Regions from separate parts of the Homo sapiens genome. Here regions 1, 2, 4 and 5 are each linked to region 3. Evidence: fine-mapped expression QTL. A gene starts in region 3. Each other region holds a variant in brackets. All regions are shown on one strand. Distances are between the middles of the regions. Region 1 overlaps LOC105375508 (a long non-coding RNA gene). Region 2 has its middle 19 kb from the start of MESTIT1. Region 3 holds the start of CEP41 (centrosomal protein 41). Region 4 overlaps CPA4 (carboxypeptidase A4). Region 5 overlaps CEP41 (centrosomal protein 41).

Evidence for each region.
Region 1: its variant is fine-mapped to the expression of CEP41 in esophagus mucosa (GTEx, PIP above 0.99).
Region 2: its variant is fine-mapped to the expression of CEP41 in subcutaneous fat (GTEx, PIP 0.92).
Region 4: its variant is fine-mapped to the expression of CEP41 in NK cells (Schmiedel 2018, PIP 0.94).
Region 5: its variant is fine-mapped to the expression of CEP41 in whole blood (TOPMed, PIP above 0.99). The same link has a PIP of 0.9 or more in caudate, cerebellar hemisphere, cerebellum, esophagus mucosa, esophagus muscle and gastroesophageal junction.

The regions. Positions count from the first base shown.
Region 1 is chr7:130,761,094-130,765,247 of GRCh38, reverse strand. All of the region lies in intron 3 of LOC105375508 (a long non-coding RNA gene), which reads right to left. Among named protein-coding and RNA genes, the nearest start is that of KLF14, 29 kb to the right of the region's middle. The variant A/G (reference allele first, on the strand shown) is at 2,442.
Region 2 is chr7:130,469,643-130,473,796 of GRCh38, reverse strand. No RefSeq gene overlaps it. Among named protein-coding and RNA genes, the nearest start is that of MESTIT1, 19 kb to the left of the region's middle. The variant C/T (reference allele first, on the strand shown) is at 1,906.
Region 3 is chr7:130,438,563-130,442,716 of GRCh38, reverse strand. It overlaps CEP41 (centrosomal protein 41), which reads left to right and starts at 1,701. Exons shown (of 11, transcript NM_018718.3): 1 at 1,701-1,783. The coding sequence starts at 1,751. It overlaps LOC105375505 (a long non-coding RNA gene), which reads right to left and starts at 963. Exons shown (of 3, transcript XR_927973.3): 1 at 29-963. RefSeq lists an enhancer at 1,261-2,015.
Region 4 is chr7:130,313,129-130,317,128 of GRCh38, reverse strand. The region is part of intron 10 of CPA4 (carboxypeptidase A4); the gene reads right to left. Among named protein-coding and RNA genes, the nearest start is that of CPA4, 22 kb to the right of the region's middle. The variant C/AC (reference allele first, on the strand shown) is at 1,698.
Region 5 is chr7:130,391,453-130,395,606 of GRCh38, reverse strand. CEP41 (centrosomal protein 41) reads left to right here. Exons shown (of 11, transcript NM_018718.3): 11 at 1-1,836. Among named protein-coding and RNA genes, the nearest start is that of CPA1, 13 kb to the right of the region's middle. RefSeq lists an enhancer at 866-925. The variant G/A (reference allele first, on the strand shown) is at 1,818.

The sequences.
Region 1 (4,154 bases), 320 kb before region 3:
ATTTATGCAGCCAACAGACATATGAAAAAATGCTCATCATCACTGGCCATTAGAGAAATGCAAATCAAAACCACAGTGAGAAACCATTTCACACCAGTTAGAATGGCAATCATTAAAAAGTCAGGAAACAACAGGTGCTGGAGAGGATGTGGAGAAATAGGAACGCTTTTACACTGTCGGTGGGAGTGTAAATTAGTTCAACCATTGTGGAAAACAGTGTGGCGAGTCCTCAAGGATCTAGAACTAGAAATACCATTTGACCCAGCAATCCCATTACTGGGCATATACCCAAAGGATTATAAATCATTCTACGATAAAGACACAGGCACACATGTTTACTGCAGCACTATTCACAATAGCAAAGACTTGGAACCAACCCAAATGTCCATCAATGATAGACTGGATTAAGAAAATGTGGCACATATACACCATGGAATACTATGCAGCCATAAAAAAGGATGAGTTCATGTCCTTTGCAGGAACACGGATGAAGCTGGGAACCATCATTCTCAGCAAACTATCACAAGATTAGAAAACCAAACACCGCACGTTCTCACTCATAAGTGGGAGTTGAACAATGGGAACACATGGACACAGGGAGGGGAACATCACACACTGGGGCCTGTCAGGGGTGGGGGACTAGGGAAGGGATAACATTAGGTGAAATACCTAATGTAGGTGACGGGTTGATGGGTGCAGCAAACCACCAGGGCATGTGTATACCTACGTAACAAAACTGCATGTTCTGCACATGTAACCCAGAATTTAAAGTATATATAAATGTGTTTGTGTGTGTGTATATATATATATATGTGTGTGTGTGCATATATATATATATATAGCACCGTACTGGCATAAATACACACACATAGACCAGTGAAACAGAATAGAGAATGCAGAAGTAAGTCCATGTATTTACATTCAATTGACTTTCAACAAAGATGCCAATAACATACAATGGGGAAAAGACAGTATTTGCAATAAATAGTGTTGGGAAAACTGGATATCCATATGTAGAAAAATATAATTAGACCCTAATTTCATACTATATATAAAAAACCCAAAATGGATTAAGACTTAAATATAAGACCTGAAACTATAAAACTACTAGAAGAAAACATAAAGGAAGAGCTTCTTGACATTGGTCTGGGAAATGAATTTTAAAATATGACCCCAAAAGCACAGGCAACAAAAGCAAAAATAGACGACAGTACATCAACTTCAAAAGCTTCTGCACAGCAAAGGAAACAATTAGCAGGGTAAAGAGACAATGTATGGAAAAAGAAAAAATGTTAGTAAACCATCTGATAAGGGATGAACATCCAAAATATATAAGAAAATTCCCATAACTCAACAGCCAGAAAACAACCCAATTAGAAAATGGGCAAAGGACCTGAAAAGACATTTCTCAAAAGAAGGCACACAAAGGGCTAATAGGTATATATATTAAAAAAAAAAAACTCAACATTACTAATCATCAGGAAAATGTAAATAAAAACCACAGTGAAATATCACTTGGCACTTGTTAGAATGGTTATTATCAAAGACAGAACATAATAAGAATGGGCAAGGATGTGGAAAAAAGGCAAGCATTGCACACTGTTGGTGAGGATGGAAATTAGTATGCCATTATGGAAACAGTATGGAGGGTCCTCAAAAACATAAAAATAGACCTGGAAATAATTAATCCATTCTTGAATAAAAGTATGGAGATAAAGTTTTTTCTTTGGAATGTGGAAAAGTCTTTTTCTTTTCTTTGGAAAATAGTTTGACAGTTTCTTTAAAAGTAAGTCATAAAACTAATACATAACCCAGCAATTCTACTCCTAGGTCCTACCCAAGATAAATAAAAACATGTGTCCAAACAAACACATGCACACAAATGTTCACAGAAGCACTGTTTATAATACAAAAAACTAGAAACAACCTAACTGATTGGTTCAACTGGTGAATGAATAGACAAAATGCAGTATATTCATATGATGAAATTCTACGCAGGAATGAAAAGGAACAAACTCTTGACACATGCTTGTCATGGATGACTCACAAAAATATTATGCTCAGCGAAATAATCCAGATGCAATAGATCACATATTTTATAACTTCACTTATATGAAATGTCCAGAAAAGGCAAACTTATAGAGAGAGCAAGTAGATTATTGGTTGCCTAGAGCTGGGGACGGGAATGGGAATTAACTTTTAATGGACATGAGGGATCTTTCTATGGGCTCATGAAAACATTCTAAAACTGATTTATGCTGATGGCTGAACCACAGGGTAGCGTTATTGAAAATTATTGTATTGTTAACTTGAAATGGATAAATGTTATGGTATGTCACATATACCTCAATAAGTTTTTTAAATTAATTACCTAATTTTTAAAAATCTAATGAAAAAAATCTGCAGAAAATTAAACTTGAAAAAGATGAAACAACAAAGAC[A/G]CCATTAGTAATGAGAAAGAAGACATCATTGGAACTATGAAATAGATTTTTAAATTGTAAGAGATTTCAATATACAACTCATATCAAATTTTTGAAAATCGAAATATGATGAACGAGCTACCTTTCTTCAAGAAAGAAGTAGAAAAACTCAAAAGACAGAAGTACAAAAACCAATAATGATGAAAAGTTGGGAGATGTTTAGCCAGACTTGAAATAGGTTAGTGGGCCTAGATGGCTATATGATGAAGCTCTTTTAGGCACTCAAGTATCACATACCTCCCATGCTACTTAACACTTCCAGAAGACAGACAACTTATTTATCTAGCTTATCTCTGCTCCCTAAACCAAAGTAATGAATAGCAAAAGACCATACTTGCTTTTGAATATAGATGCAAAAAATCTAATAAAATGTCTAATATGCAAATTCAAACACTATAGTAAAAGAATAACACAGTATGACTAACTGCCATTTGTTACAAGAACAGAACAGTTCAACAGAAGACAATCTATTAGTTTAATGCATCATATTAAGTTTTTATACCAAAATATGTATAAATCTTTTTATATGTTGGTTGATGCATCAATCTCTGGGAATAAAATAGGGAGCGATATATCCATGATTCCAAGTTACAGGGTCACAAAAATGGCCAAAGAAGATATGATGTAATATGATAATAGAAGTTCAGGGGCGACAAAGAGCACATACTATACACAGGAGGAGTATTTAGCCAAGTCTACTGAATCAAAAACAGCTTTTCACGTAGTAACCTTTAAGCTGAGATCTGAAAAACAGTGTTAGAAAGAATGGGGTTAGAGAAAGGGATTTTTTTTTTTCTGGAAGAAAGAGAAATGAGAGGAGAGAAGGGGGGAGGAGAGACTTATCTATAGAACAAGTTAAAAGATACCTTTCAGGTTTTTTGTTTGTTTTGTTTTGTTTGATACAGTGTCTCACTCTGTCGCCCAGGCTGGAGTGCAGTGGTGCCATCTCGGCTCACTGAAACCTCTGCCTCCCAGGTTCAAGTGATTCTCCTGCCTCAGTCTCCGAGCAGCTGAGAATACAGGCGTGTGCCACCACAACCGGCTAATTTTTTTGTATTTTTAGTAAAGATGGGGTTTCACTATGTTGGCCAGGCTGGTCTTGAACTCCTGGCTTCAAGTGATCCTCCCACCTCAGCCTCCCAAAGTGCTGGGATTACAGTTCTGAGCCCCCACGTCCAGCCAAAAGATATCTTTCTTGGGCGGCACTGCGTCTTAGTTGGTTAAACTGCCTGTCTAGTAAAAAAGATACCTTTCTTAATAGATGCTGTAGTAGTTTGTGTTGTGGCCCATACACACACACACAAAAATATGTCTACCAGGAATCTGTGTACGTGACCTTATTTAGAAAAAGAGTCTTTGTAGACATAATTAAGACTCTCAAGATGAGATCATTGTGAATTATCCAGGTAGGCTCTAAATCCAATGACAAGTGTCCCGAGAAGAGAAGACACAGACAGAGGAGAAGAAGATGTAAAGATGAAGGCAGAGCTGTAAGTCAAAGAGTACCAAGGATCGCTGACAGCCATCAGAGGCCGGAAGGGGACCGTGGAAGGGATTCCCCCTCAGAGTCTCCAGAAGATGTCAACTCTGCAAGACCTTCATTTTGGACTTCTGGCCATCAGAACTGTGAGAGAGTAAATTCTGTTGTTTTAAGCCACTACATTTGTGGTGATT
Region 2 (4,154 bases), 31 kb before region 3:
AATTCTTGTCACCATTAAATTGTTAAAACTGTTATACAGAGACAGTGGAAGGACCTCAGCCTATTAGATCAGGGACTATATACAAGATACAGAGAGGGAACCAAAATTGTTGCTCTGGAAATGTTCTTAGCTTTGGAAATGACCAAAGGCAAACTAGGGACAAAATAGGGGCTTAAGAAAAGAGTAAAGAGACCCAGTACCCTTTCCAAGTTCTAACCCCACAAACTGTTGACACAGCAATAGGAAATAAAAGTGAACATGCACAGCCAAAATGAGGAAGAATAGAGGCACAGGAAATCCAAAAATGAGAACAAGGCAAGTAGGGGAGGCAGAGATAAATGACTGCCAGAGACCAACATCCACTTAAAGCTGTCCTCAGCCCTCTCTACATTTTTCATTTCTGGTGAGTTTTTAACAGCTTTATTGAGCTATAACTGTTGTACAATAAACCACATATATTTAAAGTGTGTAATTTCATGAATTTTGACATATGTGTATACCCCTGAAATCATCACAATAATCAAGATAATAAACAAAGCCATTACCCACTCCGCAAATTTCTTCATGGTCCTCTGTAATCCATCTGTCTTCCTTTTTCACAATCTGTTATTTGCTTCCCCCATCCCCAGGTAATCACTGATCTAATTTCTATCACTATAGGTTAGTTTTCCTTTTCTAGAATTTTATATAAATGGAACCATGCAGTATGTATTCTGTTTTGATTGGCCTCTTTGACTCAACATGATTTTGAGATCCATCATGTTGCTGGGTGTATAGATAGTGTATTATTTGTTACTGCTGAGTAGTATTCCTTATATGGAATCAACTATGTAGCCATCAACTACTTATTTATTCATTTACCTAGTGACTTACAGGAAGACATTTGGGTTGCTTCCATTTTGGATTGCTATAAATAAAGCTATTATGAACATTTGTGTACAAAGCTTTGTGTGGACATATTTCTCTTAGGTAAATACTGATGATATACTTTTTATTTATTTTTAGTTTTAATTGACATTTAATAACTTTACATATTCATGGGGTATGTAGTGATGTTTCAATGCATATAATGTATAGTGAGCCAATCAGGGTAATTAGCATATGCATCATCTCAAACATTTATCATTTCTTAATGTTGGGAACATTCAATATCCTCCTCTTAGCATTTAATACTACATAATAGGCCAGGCGCAGTGGCCCATGCCTGTAATCCTAGTGCTTTGGGAGGCCGATGCAAGAGAATGGCTTGAGACCAGGAGTTTGAGACTAGCCTGAGCAACATAGTGAGACCCCTCTTTTTACAAAAAAAAAAAAAAAAAAAATTTTAATTAGCCAGGTATGATGGCATGTACCTGTAGTCCTAACTGTTTGGAAAGCTGAGGTGGGAGGATTGTTTGAGCCCAGGAGTTTGAGGCTGCAGTGAGCTATGATCACAGCATGCATTCCAGCCTGGGTGACAAAGTGAGACCCTATCTCTAAGAAAAAGGGAAGGAAGGAAGGAAGGAAGGAAGGAAGGAAGGAAGGAAGGAAGGAAGGAAGGAAGGGAGGGAGGGAGGGAGGGAGGGAGGAAGGGAGGGATAAAAACTACATATTATTGTTAACTATGGTCACCTACAGTGGAATACAACACTGGAATTTACTCTTTCTATCTAGCTATAATTTTGTATTCTTTAACAAATTTCTTCCTATTCCCTCCTTCCACCTGCCCTTCCCAGCCTCTAATATCCCCTGTCCTACTTTTCACTTCTATGAGATCAACTGTTTTTTAGCTTCCACATACGAGTGAGAACGTGTGGTGTTTAACTTTCTGTGTCTGGCTTATTTCACTTAACATAACGTCCTCCAGTTGCATCCGTGTTGCCACGAGTGACAGGATTTCATTCTCTTTATGGCTGAATAATATTC[C/T]ACTGTGTATATATTACCATGTTTTCTTTTCTTCCTTTTCTTTTTTAACTCCTGGCAAGCTGTGAAACTATGTTTTGTTTATCCATTCATCTATTGCTAGACAACTAGGTATGATGATGTATTATGATTTGGGTTTGATTTGTTAAACTTTTGTTAAGATTGTGTCTATGTTCATGAAATATATTGGAATATAGTTTTCTTTCTTATAATGCCTTTGTCCAATACTAGTATCAAGGTAATGCTGACCTAACAAGATAAGTTGGGAAATGTTTCTTCCTCTTCCATTTTTCAGAAAAATGTATTGGTATTATTTATAGCATTGGTATTATTACTCCCTTAAATTTTGGTGGAATTTATCAGTAAAGTTATCTTGCCCTGGAGGGGTTTGTTTTGTTGGCTAGTTAATGTTATGGGGGAAGAGGGTTTTTAGTCTATAAATCCAATTACTTTAATACATATAGGACAATTCAGGTAAGCTATTTCTTCTTGAGTGAGATGGTGGTTTGTAACATTGTCAAAATTTATTGGCATGTATTTTTTTCATAAATAGTATTATCTTTTTAATGCCTATAGGTACTCTGGTGATATCCCCATTATATCTCCTATAATATTTATTCCTGATATTAGTAGTTTGCGCCTTCTCTCTTTTCTTCCTGATTAGTATACTACATATTATCAACTTTATTGATATTCCCAAAGAACCAGCTTTTAGCCATCTGAAAAGAATGAGCTCTTGAAATGCCTGCAGTGGCTTACTCCTGTAATCCCAGCTACTTGGGAGGCTGAGGTGGGAAGATCACTTGGGCCCAGCAGTTCAAGGCTGCAGTGATCTATGATCATGCCATTGTACTCCAGCCTGGGCAACAGCAATACCCTAAAAAAAAAAAAAAATAGTTCCAGGACCTTGGACCATTAGTTAATATCTTATCATGAGATCATTCCAATCTAATGTCTAAAAAGACACAAATATTAGTGCAACTAAAGTATCTCAGGTTGCTAAGGAATTATGCTTGAACATAAATTCACCTTCCATCTGGATATATGAGTCCCCAGCAGGATCAACAGGCTGGGCTTCCTGATACTACAAAATCCAATTTTTCCTTGACAATCAAAAACCTGCTGATGTTCTTAGACCAATGCTTGAGTCAACTGTGTCCCTATATAATTTTCTAGGCAAGTTTGTGTCTCCCTAAATGCTGCCCTCTCTGTTGAAAACCAAAGATTAGCATGACTAAACGAGAAGGAAGGGAGAAGATACAAATTGCCAGTATTAGAAATAAAAGGAGAGAGATCTGACAAATATTAAAAAGGATACTAAGGCAATGTTACAAACAACTCTATGCCCCCAAATTCAAAAGCTTTGATAAAATGAACCAATTCCTTAAAAGATACAAACTACAGAAGGAATAGATAAGAATAGTTCTGATAATGCTATATTTATTAAATAAATTAAATTTGTAGTTAAAAACTTTCTCAAAAAACTCATGGCAAGATGTTTTTACTGTGAATTCTACTGAATATTTAAGGAAAAAACAACACATTCTCTACACATTCTCTTCCACAAAATAGAAAAGGACAGACCACTTCCTGACTTATTTTATGAGGTCAGCACTACCCTAAATACGAAAATCAGACAACAGAAAACTACAGACTAATATAACTCATAGACAAAAAAATCCTTCACCAAATATTAGCACATTTAATTCATCAATACATAAAACAGACAATACATATGACCAAGTGGGGTTCATATTAGGAATATAAGTCTACATCAACATCCAAAAATCAATCAATGTAATTAACCACATTAATAGACTAAAGTGAGAAAAATTATATGACCAATTCAGTAGATACAGAAAAAAGCTTCTGATAAAATTTAACATCAATTCATGGTCAAAATTTTTGGCAAACTAGAAATAGAAGAGAACTTCTTTAACCTAATAAATGGTATCTACAAAAAAAAACCCTATTACTAACATCATAATTAATGGTGAGAGATTGAATCCTTTTCCTCTAAGGTCCAGAGAAAGGCAACAATGTCCTCTTTACGATTCCAAGTAAACATTATACTTGAGGTCCTAGTAGTGCAATCAGGTAAGAAAAATAAATAAAAGGTATGTAGATTAGAATAAATAAATGTAACTTTCTTTGATCACATGCAATATGATGGCTTATGTAGAAAATCCCAAAGAATCTACACTAACAAATATCTTGGAAGTAATCAATGAGTTTAGCAAGGTTGCAGGATA
Region 3 (4,154 bases):
TGGAAGTTGAATGGACTGTTGGACCTACTTGTACTTTCTGCTGTTTTGGCTTTTTGACTGTTGTTCTTTAACTTGATTAATGCATTATCGCCCATCTACTCAGTTCCTCAAGTTAGAGAAACTATAGCCATCTTTGATGAATTTCTATTCCTTGCACCCCTTACCTCTTCTCATGTATACTATTGATTTTACCTACACGTCTTTAAATCTCTCCTTTTCTGTCTTTCTCACCACCTCTGAGTGTAGTCCCCTATCATCTCCCTCTCTCCTTTCCCGTTATTCTATCCATAATCTCTATGGTTACCCACAAGGTGCACCAGGTAAGCATACATTCTAAATACTAATGAATCTAGAAGTTTCTGCTTGCTATGCAAAAGCTTCTAGATTAACATTCTTCCCTCTGCCTCCTTCCAATTTTTTGCAGCCTTCAAACCCTTCCTTAGCAGAGGAGTGAGAGACTGAGAATTTTAGAGGGGTTAAAGAACTGGCAAAGATTATGGAAATTAAGACAAAACTTAATAAACATGAAAGAGTGACATGAAAAGTCCAAGAAGCAGCTGTGGCCAGAATTCAAAATTCTGGTCAAGCAGCACTGACTGGCAACATGATCCAAGGTGTAGCCCTAAGGTTGGGTTGCTGAAGTGCCTAAGAGAACAAGGGCATGTGAGGCCATGTTGTTGAATGGGTCATCTCACAGACCCTGAAGTAGCTCAAATGTGTGCTATTATTCACTAACAGACAACTGGCGAGTATGAACTGCTCAGAGTAACCTTTCTCCATTCCTGGAAAAACAACTTAGAGCAAAGGACAAAGGGTTACTGTGTTGTTCCTTTCATGTAAAAGGAAATAATAATTTTGATGGATTTGGTGGGACATTTAGGAGCCAAGTCAAACTGTGTGTGTAATTGTTTTGTAAAGGTGCTAGGACTTCATTTTCAGATCCGGAATGGGAACAGGTGGTGGCTGGTGGCAGGAGTCACAATGGTTTCCATGACGACGGGATTGGGTCCTAGTCATCCTCCCATTCTCCACAAGACCTACTGCAGCTTTTCTCATAAGGTGCTTATTAAGTATTTGTTAAATGAACGATGAACCACAGAATAGCGCGTGTGCTTTGCAATTAAGGATGTCGCTCTATAGCTAGCCTAAAAGCTTTTAAAGCACCGATAATTACTGTATTTACCCATGTATTTTGCATAATTCGCATATTAACTTAACCAGAAAATAATAAACCATACTCTCCCATTTCTGCTGAACAACCCTGGCCCATATAATATTCCCTGTTGTGGAATCAGTAGCCCAGATGTTTGGTTGAAACGGCCATAAAACGGAGCTGGGGGATGGGGAGTCTTGTGTTGTATTTATGGTTCCACATTAGCTAAAACTCGTGTTTTGTCCCGGCTCTCAAGCCACTGCCCCCGCCCCCGGCTTTGCGCAGGCGCCAGCCTTCCCCTCCCCCCGCGCCTCTCTTCCCGCCCTAAGGCTGGAGCCGGCGAGCCCCAGCCCAGAGAACAAAAGGCCTCGCTAGCCGGCGTCCCGCGTTGCCCTTGGCAACCATTGAGCGGCGTCTTGCCCTTCTGCGACCCTGAGATGAGAGAGTAAACGGGGCCCCCATTGGCCGGCCGGGGAAGACGGGCCAATCGGAGAAGAGGGTATAGGGAGGCGGCTGAACAAGGTTGTGGGGGTAGGAAGCTAGGGTTAGAGGCAACCCGTGAGGCTAGAACCCCGAACGTGGTCGGTTGGAGAAAATATGTCCCTCCGGAGGCACATTGGGAACCCTGAGGTGAGGGCCAGGTCTCGGCCGGAGAGCCGGAGGGGGCGGGCGCACCGGAAAAGGCTCATGTGGGCAGGGAAGAGCAGCCAGCGACTTCCGCCGCCCGGAAGGCGGGAAGGGGCCGGCGTGAGGAGGGGTCGGGATGCAGGGGCGGGGCGGGCCGGGCTTGGGGGCCGCGGGGCAGCGTTCAGGACCCCGTTTTGAGGAGCGATCTCTCCCCGCGTACGCACGCCAGTACTTGTGACTGCGAGGAGCGAAGTACCCAAAGACACAGCCCTTGCCCTCAAATGGCTTACAGTCTCGGAGTGACAGTTACAAAACAGAAAAGACAAAGGAAGCGCTGCACACTAATGGCACGTGTTGAAAGCCAGCCAGCATCTCTGATTGTGGGGATACAGGAAGAGCAGGAGTAAGCTGACCAAACCTTTGGAAAACGGGCAAAATAGGACATTAGGCTTACCCCTCTCTCCATAGGACCCTTCAGTTTCTTCATCTGTTTCACCGCTAGTCCCCTGCTGCATTTGTGGCAGTTTCAACAAACGTTATTGGAAACTTCCACGGTGCAGTAGGTGCTAGACGTACAAAGAAGACAAGGCCTCTGCCCTTTAATAAATTGCGTATAGTGGACCAGGCGCGGTGGCTCAGCCTGTAATCCCAGCACTTTGGGAGGCCGAGGCGGGCGGATCACGAAGTCAGAAGTTTGAGACCAGCCTGGCCAACATGGCGAAACCCCGTCTCTACTAAAAATACAAAAATTAGCCGGGCGTGGTGGTGAGGCGCCTGTAATCCCAGCTACTCGGTAGGCTGAGGCAGGAGAATCGCTTGAACCCAGGAGATGGAGGTTCCAGTGAGCCGAGATCGTGCCATTGCACTCCAGCCTGGGTGATAAGAGCGACTCTGTCTCAAAAAAATAAAAATAAACAATAAATAAATTGCGTCTAGTGAAGGAGCCTGTGAACAGAATTTGAGTACAGTGTGGTCGGGGAGCAAGATGTTACGAGAAAATAGGTAGTACTCAACTGAGGGAGTGAGAGAAGGGTTGTGGAGATGGAAGGGGTGGCAAGGCCATTCATTAGCCAGGTGAAGCATCATCCCGGGTAGAACAGCCCAAGTGAAGGTAAGGAGTGTGTGAACTCAGAACAGGCCCCTGTAGGAGTCCAGGCTTTCTCTGCCTTGCTGAGGTTCTTAGCCTTTATCCCAAATAGGAGTTGTAACTGTTTCATCTCTTGGTGGCTGCCTGGTACTAGGCTGAGAAAGCTGTAAGGCTGAGTCTAAGCCCTGCAAGAGAGCCATGGTCAATTGGTAATGTCTAAATGCTGCATGATCTCACTTATACGTGGCATCTTAAAAAGTCCAGCTCATAGAAGTAGAGAATAAAATGGTGGTTACCAGAGCCTGGAGGGTGGGGGGAAGGAGGGCAGAAATGGGAAGATGTTGATCCAAGGGCACAAAGTTACAGTTAAACAGGAGGAATGGTTTTTGAGATCTCTGGCACAGCATGGTGACTATAGTTAATAATAATTACAGCAGACTCATAACCCCCAGTAGAAAATCCATGTACAACTTTTTACTCCCCTCCCCCCTGCAAAAAAACTTAACTACTAATAGCCTACTATTGACTGGAAGGCTTCCTGATAACAGAAACACTTGATTAACATATTTTGTATCTCATATGTATTATGTACTGAATTCTTAAAGTAAGCTGGAGGAAAGATTATTATTAAGAAAATCATAAGGAAGAGAAAATATATTTACTATTCATTAAGTGGCAGTGTATCATCATAAACATCTTCATCCTAATTGTCTTCATTGCTAAGGGGCAAGGAAAAGGAGGGGTTGGTCTTGCTGCCTTAGGGGTGACAGAGGCAGAAGAAAATCTGGGTATAAGTGGATCTGCACAGTTCAAGCCCATGTTGTCCAAAGTTCAACTATATTGTAGATTTCAAAATAGAGTAAATTGTATATTTTATGAGAGTAAATTTCAAATATCTCACCTCAAAAAAAAGATAAGTGGGTTGATGGATATGTTAATTTGATTTAATCATTCCACATTGTGTGTGTGTGTATATACCAAAACATCAAATTGTACCCCATAAATGTATAAAGTTATGATTTGTCTATCAAAATATTAATAAAAATGTTAATATTGTGTATCATGGGGGTGGGAGAGATAGGTGAGGAGAATGGCAGTTTGCCACATATTTATCTTGTCTGCTGGTCAGGATTTGAGAAATTTTTTGAGTTATTAAAGGAGTGACATGGTCAGATTTGCATTTTAGGCAGATGGCTGTAGCTACATTGTGGAAGATGGGTTTGAGGAGGCTCCAGGACTGGAAATGAGATTGGTTAAGTGGTTACTATTTTTTATTTATTTATTTAT
Region 4 (4,000 bases), 130 kb after region 3:
AGGATTGCTTGAGCCCAGATAAAGATCCCTTCAGGTATTTTCTTCTCACAGTCTACAAGATATGCTCAGCCATAAGGCGCTCACCTCCATCTCATCCTTTCCATCCTCTCGCATGCAAGCCCTATATTCAATACTCTTTCAACCTTCTATCTCTCTTCATATATGCTACCCCCCAAATCCCACCAGTCTTTTATCTTCAATTTTTTTTTTTTTTTTTTTGAGACAGAGTTTCGCTCTTGTAGCCCAGGCTGGAGTGCAACCTCTGCCTCCCAGGTTCAAGTGATTCTCCTGACTCAGCCTTCCAAGTAGCTGGGATTACAGGCGCACACCACAATGCCCAGCTAAAGTATTTTAGTAGAGACGGGGTTTCACCATGTTGGCCAAGCTGGTCTCAAACTCCTGACCTCAGGTGATCCACCCGCCTCGGCCTCCCAAAGTGGGAGGATTACAGGCGTGAGCCAACGCGCCCAGCCTCAACACCAATTTTAAACCCCAACCAACACTCATGCTCTGATCTAATTACAAGTTCTCTCACCATGTTTCACCACCTTACTTCCACTCACATAAAGGGAGCCCCAAATTAGTTTATAAATGGCAGCACATCAAAAAACCCTCCCTCCAAGCAGGATATGCCATCTTTAAGGGATATCATAATGATACCCACTCTCTCCCACCTAAAAGAGTTGTAGAGGCTGCCCCCTTGCCTTTGGGCACATCCTCCCAACAAACAGAATTAGTTGCCCTAAGAGCCCTAACCCTAGCAAAAAACACACAATTTATACAGCGATTCTAAATATGCCTATAACATCATCCATTCCAATGCCCAAATTTGGAGCAAGCAGGGCTATCTCACAGCTGAGGGAACTCCTATCATTAATGGAAAACTAATCCATCATCTAAAGGCAGCTTTACTTCCAGAAAAGGTTGCAGTTATCCATTGCAAAGGACATCAATCACATTTCTTTAGGGAACTGTGAGGCTGACTATTGAGCAAAACACGTCTCAACCAATCATCCAATTCCCCAATACCTATTTCCCCTCATACAACATATCCCCTCCTTTTATCCTAAACACCAAATATAGCAACTAGTTATGGCGGGGGCACAATTCAAACCCCCATACTGGTTGATACGAACCAAATTAGTCCCACCTAACCCTGAAAAAACAACGCTTTTATGAGATATTCACAATCTCTTCCACAGTAGCCATTTACCTCTACAACATTTCATAAGTTCTCATATACACATAACCCCAGATATAAAGGAACAGTTAAAAGCCATTTCCCATCAATGCTCTATTTGCCACAAAGCGTCACCTTATTCCAACACTAAACCCCCTTCTTTCCCAACCTTTCGAGCCAGGGGACACCTTTCAGGACAAGACTGGCAAATTAATTTTACCCATATGCCCCAGTAAACAAGGTTCAATTTCTTTTAGTTCTGGCTAATACCTTGTCAGGATGGGTGGAGGCTTTTTCCATCCAACAATCGAATTTCTATTGTCGCCTCCAAATTAATAACATAAATCATCCCCAGGTTCGGGGTGCCTCTTTCTTTTCAATCTGATAATGGCCCTGAATTCATTTATCAAATTACTCAAACACTTGCACAGGCCCTACTAATCACCTGGAAGCCACACATCCCCTATCACCCTCAATCTTCAGGAAAGGTTAAAAAAATGAATAACATTCTAAAAAA[C/AC]ACCCTCACCAAGTACTCACTCCAAACACATACAAACTGGGTTACACTTTTACCTTTGGCCCTTCTAAAAATTCAGGCACTCCCACCTAAACCTCCAATGCTCAGCCCCTTTAAACTCACGTCCAAAAGACCACTCACACCTTTTGTTCCACCTCAGAGTCAAGCCCTGCCTCCACCAACCCCTCTCGTTTCCCCTCTTCTACATACCATCTGCCATTTTATTTGGGAATATGCTAACAAATGCCTGCCACAACCCGTAACTGACTCCTCTAATCCCTTCCTACACCAGGACTGGGATCCCAGTCCTACCCCCAATTCCCCCCCTCACACCTAAGTGGAAGGGACCTTACCAGATCATCCTTACTACACCCACGGCAGCAAAACTCCAAGGACTCCCCAGCTGGTTTCATTATACTTCTCTCAAGAAAACAGACTTCCCTTCACCACATACCCAAACAACCAAGTCTAAAATCCCTCAGCCTTCTCTTGTGTCTCCATAGGACCCACTTCCCTTCACCTCACCCGAATCCCGAAGAAAAAGGAAGAGAAATCCACATAAGCCGCTTACATCTCTTTCTCTCCCAAACTTTCGTCGCTTCCTAACCAACCGCATTACAGCCCTTCAGTGGTACTCTTACAGAATTCCCATTATACATCCTGAACAGCTCCTTACTGTGCTATGGGACCTACGGCTTCGAGGAACTTTCCAGGACTTTACTCCTACCCAAATAACTGTTTTCTCTTTTTCTTGTTTCTTTCAGTATAAATTCCCTAATCACATCAACCTCACCAATACAACCACTCCTAACTGCTCTCAAACTAGAACTCTCTGTAAACCTTACACGATCCCTCTTGCTGCAAGCTAACTGTTCCTTTGCTCCGGAATGCTGAATGTGCTTATCGCTGTCTTCCTCAGCTTACGCAGCTCTTCCTACAACCCTTCATGACCTTTTAACAGGAAACATAACCCTAATTTATAAATTCCAGAAAGGAGCTTCCTTTGTTAAAAGAGCTGACACCCTGGTCAGCGATTATCCTGCTTCCAGGGCCAATCAGGCCAACAAATTATTTCAAACCTATTACGACTCCCTACAACACCTCAAGCCCCAAGGCCCTCCCATTAAAGGGCCCATAACTAAACACACCCCCGTTTTACAACAAACCTCACTTTACTTTTCAGCCTCTAAGGAAAATTTCCCTGTAGGGTCCTTAACACCTAACCAGTGCAACCGCTCTCATTATTATTAAACACCCCTCTGACCACCAAACTAACAAAGTTGACTACCAAGGATCACCAGAAGCAAACAGAGCATTTTTGCAACTGGCTCTTTTCACAGCCTCTCCCTCAACCAATGCCTCTGGCCCAACCTGTGTTGTCCCTGGTGCCCACATTTTTCCATGGTTGGATATCAATAGTGCAACATCTGACTGCAGTATTGTGTAAAAAATAATTCTTTCTATATCTCTACCATAGTGGGTGTCTCCCTGGCCTCCTCCTTGTCCACCTGGAGTAATGAACCACAAGAAAGAAAAAACACCCCGTCTTTAATTCACTTGTTTTCTTTCCATATCTCCACCTGTATTTACAACGAAGTCTTGTTCTTTTGGTGTGGCACCAACACATATCTTTGTCTCCGCACCAACTAAACTGGAACCTGTGTCCTAGTTTATCTTTCTCCCTCCATTAAACTAGTTCCTCCTAATCAACCTTTACCCATTCCATCTGTCCAATCTGTTTTAAAAAAGAGGGCCATCCACGTCATTCCTTTGATGGAGGCCTTAGGTGTAACCTCTATACTTGGATTGGGAGCAGGCAGATTGGCCACGTCTTTAACATACTTTAAAAAAACTCTTTCAACAGAACTACAGGGTTCTTTAAAAAATATAGCCCGAAGCCTTATAAAAGCCCAAGACCAACTAGACTCCTCAGCTGCAGTCCTCCAAAATAAATGGGGATTAAATCTTATAACAGCTGAAAAAGGGGGCCTCTGCCTCTCATTGGGTAAGAATCAGGCCTAGTAAGAAACACTGCTGAAAAACTTTTAAAAAGGGCTAAAAAGCTAAAGGAATAGCAAAACAACCAAATAACTTCTTGGTTTGGAAACAAAATCGTAACACAGGTCATCCCATTCCTGGGCTCTGTCCTAATAATATGCCTAGGACTAATGTTCTTACCCTGCCTAATCAACCTTTTTCAAAGATATTTAACTGACAGAATCCTGCCCATCTCACAGACTACTACCCAAAAACATCTACAGACAGCGTTACTCCTACAGTCAATCTGAGATCAAAAACTCTCCGTG
Region 5 (4,154 bases), 47 kb after region 3:
GGTTTCTGTCATGTTGTTTATTGGCTATAGATTCTGTCTTTTATGTTATCTGACTTTTTTAGAGCGAATAATTAGTTTCTGTCCACCTGGATTTAAATCCATGACCACCTTCTTGCTCTACTCTGAAGATAATCAGTAAGAACCTTTCTTTCTCCAGTTCTAAAACGTTCTCAGTGTCTTTAATGTGTGTTTATTTTCTTCCCAATTCTTTCAAAGATTTAACTCCCACGATACTTTTTTTTCCCCAGGAAACACCGCAAATGTGTGGAATATAATTCACCAGTTTAATTATGTGAGCATGTTGAGTACTTACATGCAGGTCCATTAATTTTTCACTAACAATTATTTTTTCATGCAAAAGCAATAAATAACATTGTGCTTCCAAAATGTTCAGAATACATTTGGGTAGTAATACTTTCCTAGATTTACAATAATTATTGAAATTATTATTATGACATCTTTAAATGGATACACAGGTCAGTTACAACATAAAAAATGTAATGGTGGAAATTTGTCAGCCTTGAATTCAGGCAGAACAGGATTCGGTGCATGATTTTATGTGTTTTCGAAACGGTGTCTGTCACATTGTGATCCCCTGATGGCTCCCCTCTCTGTTGCTGATCCTCTTTGTTCTGTACAGAAGCAAATTCTCACCTGTGTAACATCCTGAAGCACCTGGTAAAATGTGAGGCAAAGAGAGGCCACTTCTCAAATGCTGTGGACGGATGGGCTGCATCTTTTAAAGGATATCAATATGTCTTCCTGTTGCAATTATTTTGACTATAAGCTCCCAGAGAGTGAAAATCACCAACCCTGTGACAGTGGCCCTTAATAAGTGTTCATGAATAAATGAATTGAACCTGTCAAGATTGAAGTTTGGATGTGATGCCCACTGTGGTGGCCACTCAGTGCTAGTCTGTCATTCTGGAGACCCAGAAAGCTCGTTATCTTCTGTCCCCCTTGTGTATCCTGCCTTTGTGGGCGAGGCATTCAAAACCCTGAGGTTTTTAGATCTCCCTCTACAGGAAGTACCCAGAGAGCTGCTGGGGGTGTTATTACCCTGTCTCTGCCAGGCTTAAAGTATCCTCCCAAATTCAGCACGCAAAGGTCACACACCACCCCCATCTTAAGAGTAGGTTTTCTCTTTTGTTTCAAATCTTGAAGATTTCCAGAAAATAATAATACTAGCCAATGTTTGTGGAGAGCTTACTTTGCTCCTAGATTCTTCATTATATGTTTTGACCCATTTAATTTCCACAACAGTCTGATGAGGCAGGCACCCCCATTTTCAGATGAGGAGACTGAGGTTCGGGTAGAAATTAAGTGACTCAGGTTTGCCTTCAGTCTCTGACCAAGGGTTTGAAAAGCCAGGAGCCAGCCTGAGAACTGTGGCTCCAGAGGGTGTTCTTTCAGCCACTCCGCTCTATGCTTCTCACTCTGGGTGGGCACAACCATGTTCTCCTTTGGTGATGCCTCTAACTTACCGTGAAAATGTACCTTTCCCTTCGCTATTGGCTTCCCTTCCCTCCTAGTCAGCCGAGATTCTTTTGAAAACTTTCCTCCGCTTGCCTGCACAAAAGGCGATGGAAATTCAGGAACTGAAACATCTGCTCTGGGGAATGCGTATTTCCACATTTCCACCGCCTGTGTCTGCTGTCTTATCTTGAAGACAGGTGCTCCAGGGCTTCCGAGGTTATTTTGTCTGTTAATGGACACCTTGCAAAGTACCACTTAAGGAATGAGAATTACAAACTTTTAATTATATTGTAGGGGGAAAAAAGTAGGCTGTTTTCCTGATAGGTCTAGCCATTCATTCA[G/A]TAAACCATATTGATATGATTTGTGCCTGATCTTTTCTTTCCTTTGTGGTGATGTTTCTGATTTCGGCTGAAACATAAGTTGCATGAATTGGCGATGGCCATAGGCCTGAGTTCCCGGGGGAAGCAGAGGCAAACCTCCTTGCCCCAGTCCTTGTCAGCAGAGCCCTTATTCTACTGCACTCTTCTAAAAATGTAGCCAATACCACTACTGTGGTTAAGCAGAAGACTTTCCATTTTCTCCTTTTAGTTTGGCAATAAACATTTGGCAATCCCAGTCTCTGAGGTTGTTGGATGATGCTCAGTGTTTGAGTTGCCAAATTAATGCAGATCCTGAAAGCTTTGGGGAATAATTCATTACCCTTTGACAGTTTTTTAGATTTGACGATGCATGCTCTGTGCTTTTCTGAGAGCTTCTCCTTGATTTGGCCAATTTGAATGTTACGGTTAGTCATATCAGCTTCATCTGAGTAGCATCTGGGTCTTAGTGTGTTCACAGAATGATGTTGCTGTAGTCCTTAAAGCAAGAGTCCCTGTGCATCTTCAAATCCACCTCATCCCACTCGCCCTTGCAAAACAATTGCCAGGGTGATGAATCGCCCCGCACTGGATGAAGGACCAGTGAGGTCATATCTGGATTGTATTCAATGACATTCCCATTTTAACTTTAGGCCAAAGACAGAAAGCTAGCTGTGCATATCTGAGTGTTAATTCAAGAGGCTACCCTAAGGATTCTCATAGATCACCAATATTGGGCCCACAGGCCATTAGAGAACCATATGTAATGGTCTGAGTAAAAAGTAAAATGAGTTCATTTGAAAATAAAGATTTTCAAAGGCCCTGGGGAATAGGCATTAGCATAATCAATTCCCAAGATAGCTACAAGAACTGAATGTGAGCAGGAAGGGGTTTTGGGAATTTTCATCAAGCTACAACAAGGGGTAGGATGGGGAATGGCCCCCAACTGCATGAGCTGAGTAATCTCTTCCTTTGGTAGAAACACTGCTGCTTCCAGCTGTATCTTGGAGTGTGAATTTTTCTGAAGATAAGACAAACTGCAGCGTTCCGGGCAAGATGATGAAACATTATACCGGAGCAGAAAAAAATGAGTTTAGACAAATCAAAAGAATCTGAGTAAAAACTAAGATGGCCATTTAGCTGTTTGATGTTGATAATACACCGATGTTAGGTAACTTTACACACATGTTATCTACTGTGTTCGAAATAGCTCCCTTCACTCCCTGCCCGTTATAAAAGCTGATTATAGAAGCTCATTGCGAGAAATGCTGAGAAGCATAAAAAGGAAAACTACCACCACCACTACCCAGGTTAATCATTATTATTATTGGGGGATATATCCTTCCAGGAAGAGAAAGAGAAGGAGAGAGAGAAAGCATGTTTGTGTGTGTGTGTGTGTGTGTGTGTGTGTGTGTGTGTGTGTGTGTCTTTTAAACAAGATGGGATCCAGACTCAATATTTTGTATCCAGCTTCTTTTTTAAAACAACTGTATTGTATAAATCACATACCATAAAATTCACCCATTTTAAGTGCACAACTCAATGATTTTGAGTTAAGTTTACAGAATTGTGCAACCATCACCACAATCCAGTTTTATAACATTTCCATCTTATAGCCAGTTTCTTTCACTTAGTATGTTGTGAACATTTTTCCATGTCAACACAGCCCTTAATGGTGTCGTGTTGTTCCAGTGTGTGGATGTGTCAGATCAGCATCAAGACTGGTAATTATCTAGGTTTTTTGTTTTTTACTTTTCCAATCTTGTACATACATATTTTTGAATCCATCCAAATATTTTTATAAAGTAAATTCTTCCATGTGGGTTTTCTGGATCAAAGACACAATACATTTATAATTTTGATTTATATTGCCAAATTTGCCCTCTGGGAAGGTGGTGCCAGTTTCTGCTCCACCAGCACTACATGTTAACACTGGAGTCATCAGTCTTTTTATTCTTTGCCAATCTGATGAGAGAAAAATATCTTCATTTCTCCTTAATGAACAAGAAATCACTTAGAGGATCAGTGTCTTTCATACATGTATTGATTTGTGTTTCTTCTTAGTGGAATTGCCTATTTTTCTTTTGAAATGTTTGTCTTTTTCTTTAACCCTTTTTATTATTTTAACCCCTCAAGGTTATTAATACTTATTTTCATATCAATACTTTCATTTTTAAGTTGCAATATTTTCCAAAATTGTCTTTTAGGTTATTAATACTTATTTTCATATCAATACTTTCATTTTTAAGTTGCAATATTTTCCAAAATTGTCTTTTAGGTTATTAATACTTATTTTCATATCAATACTTTCATTTTTAAGTT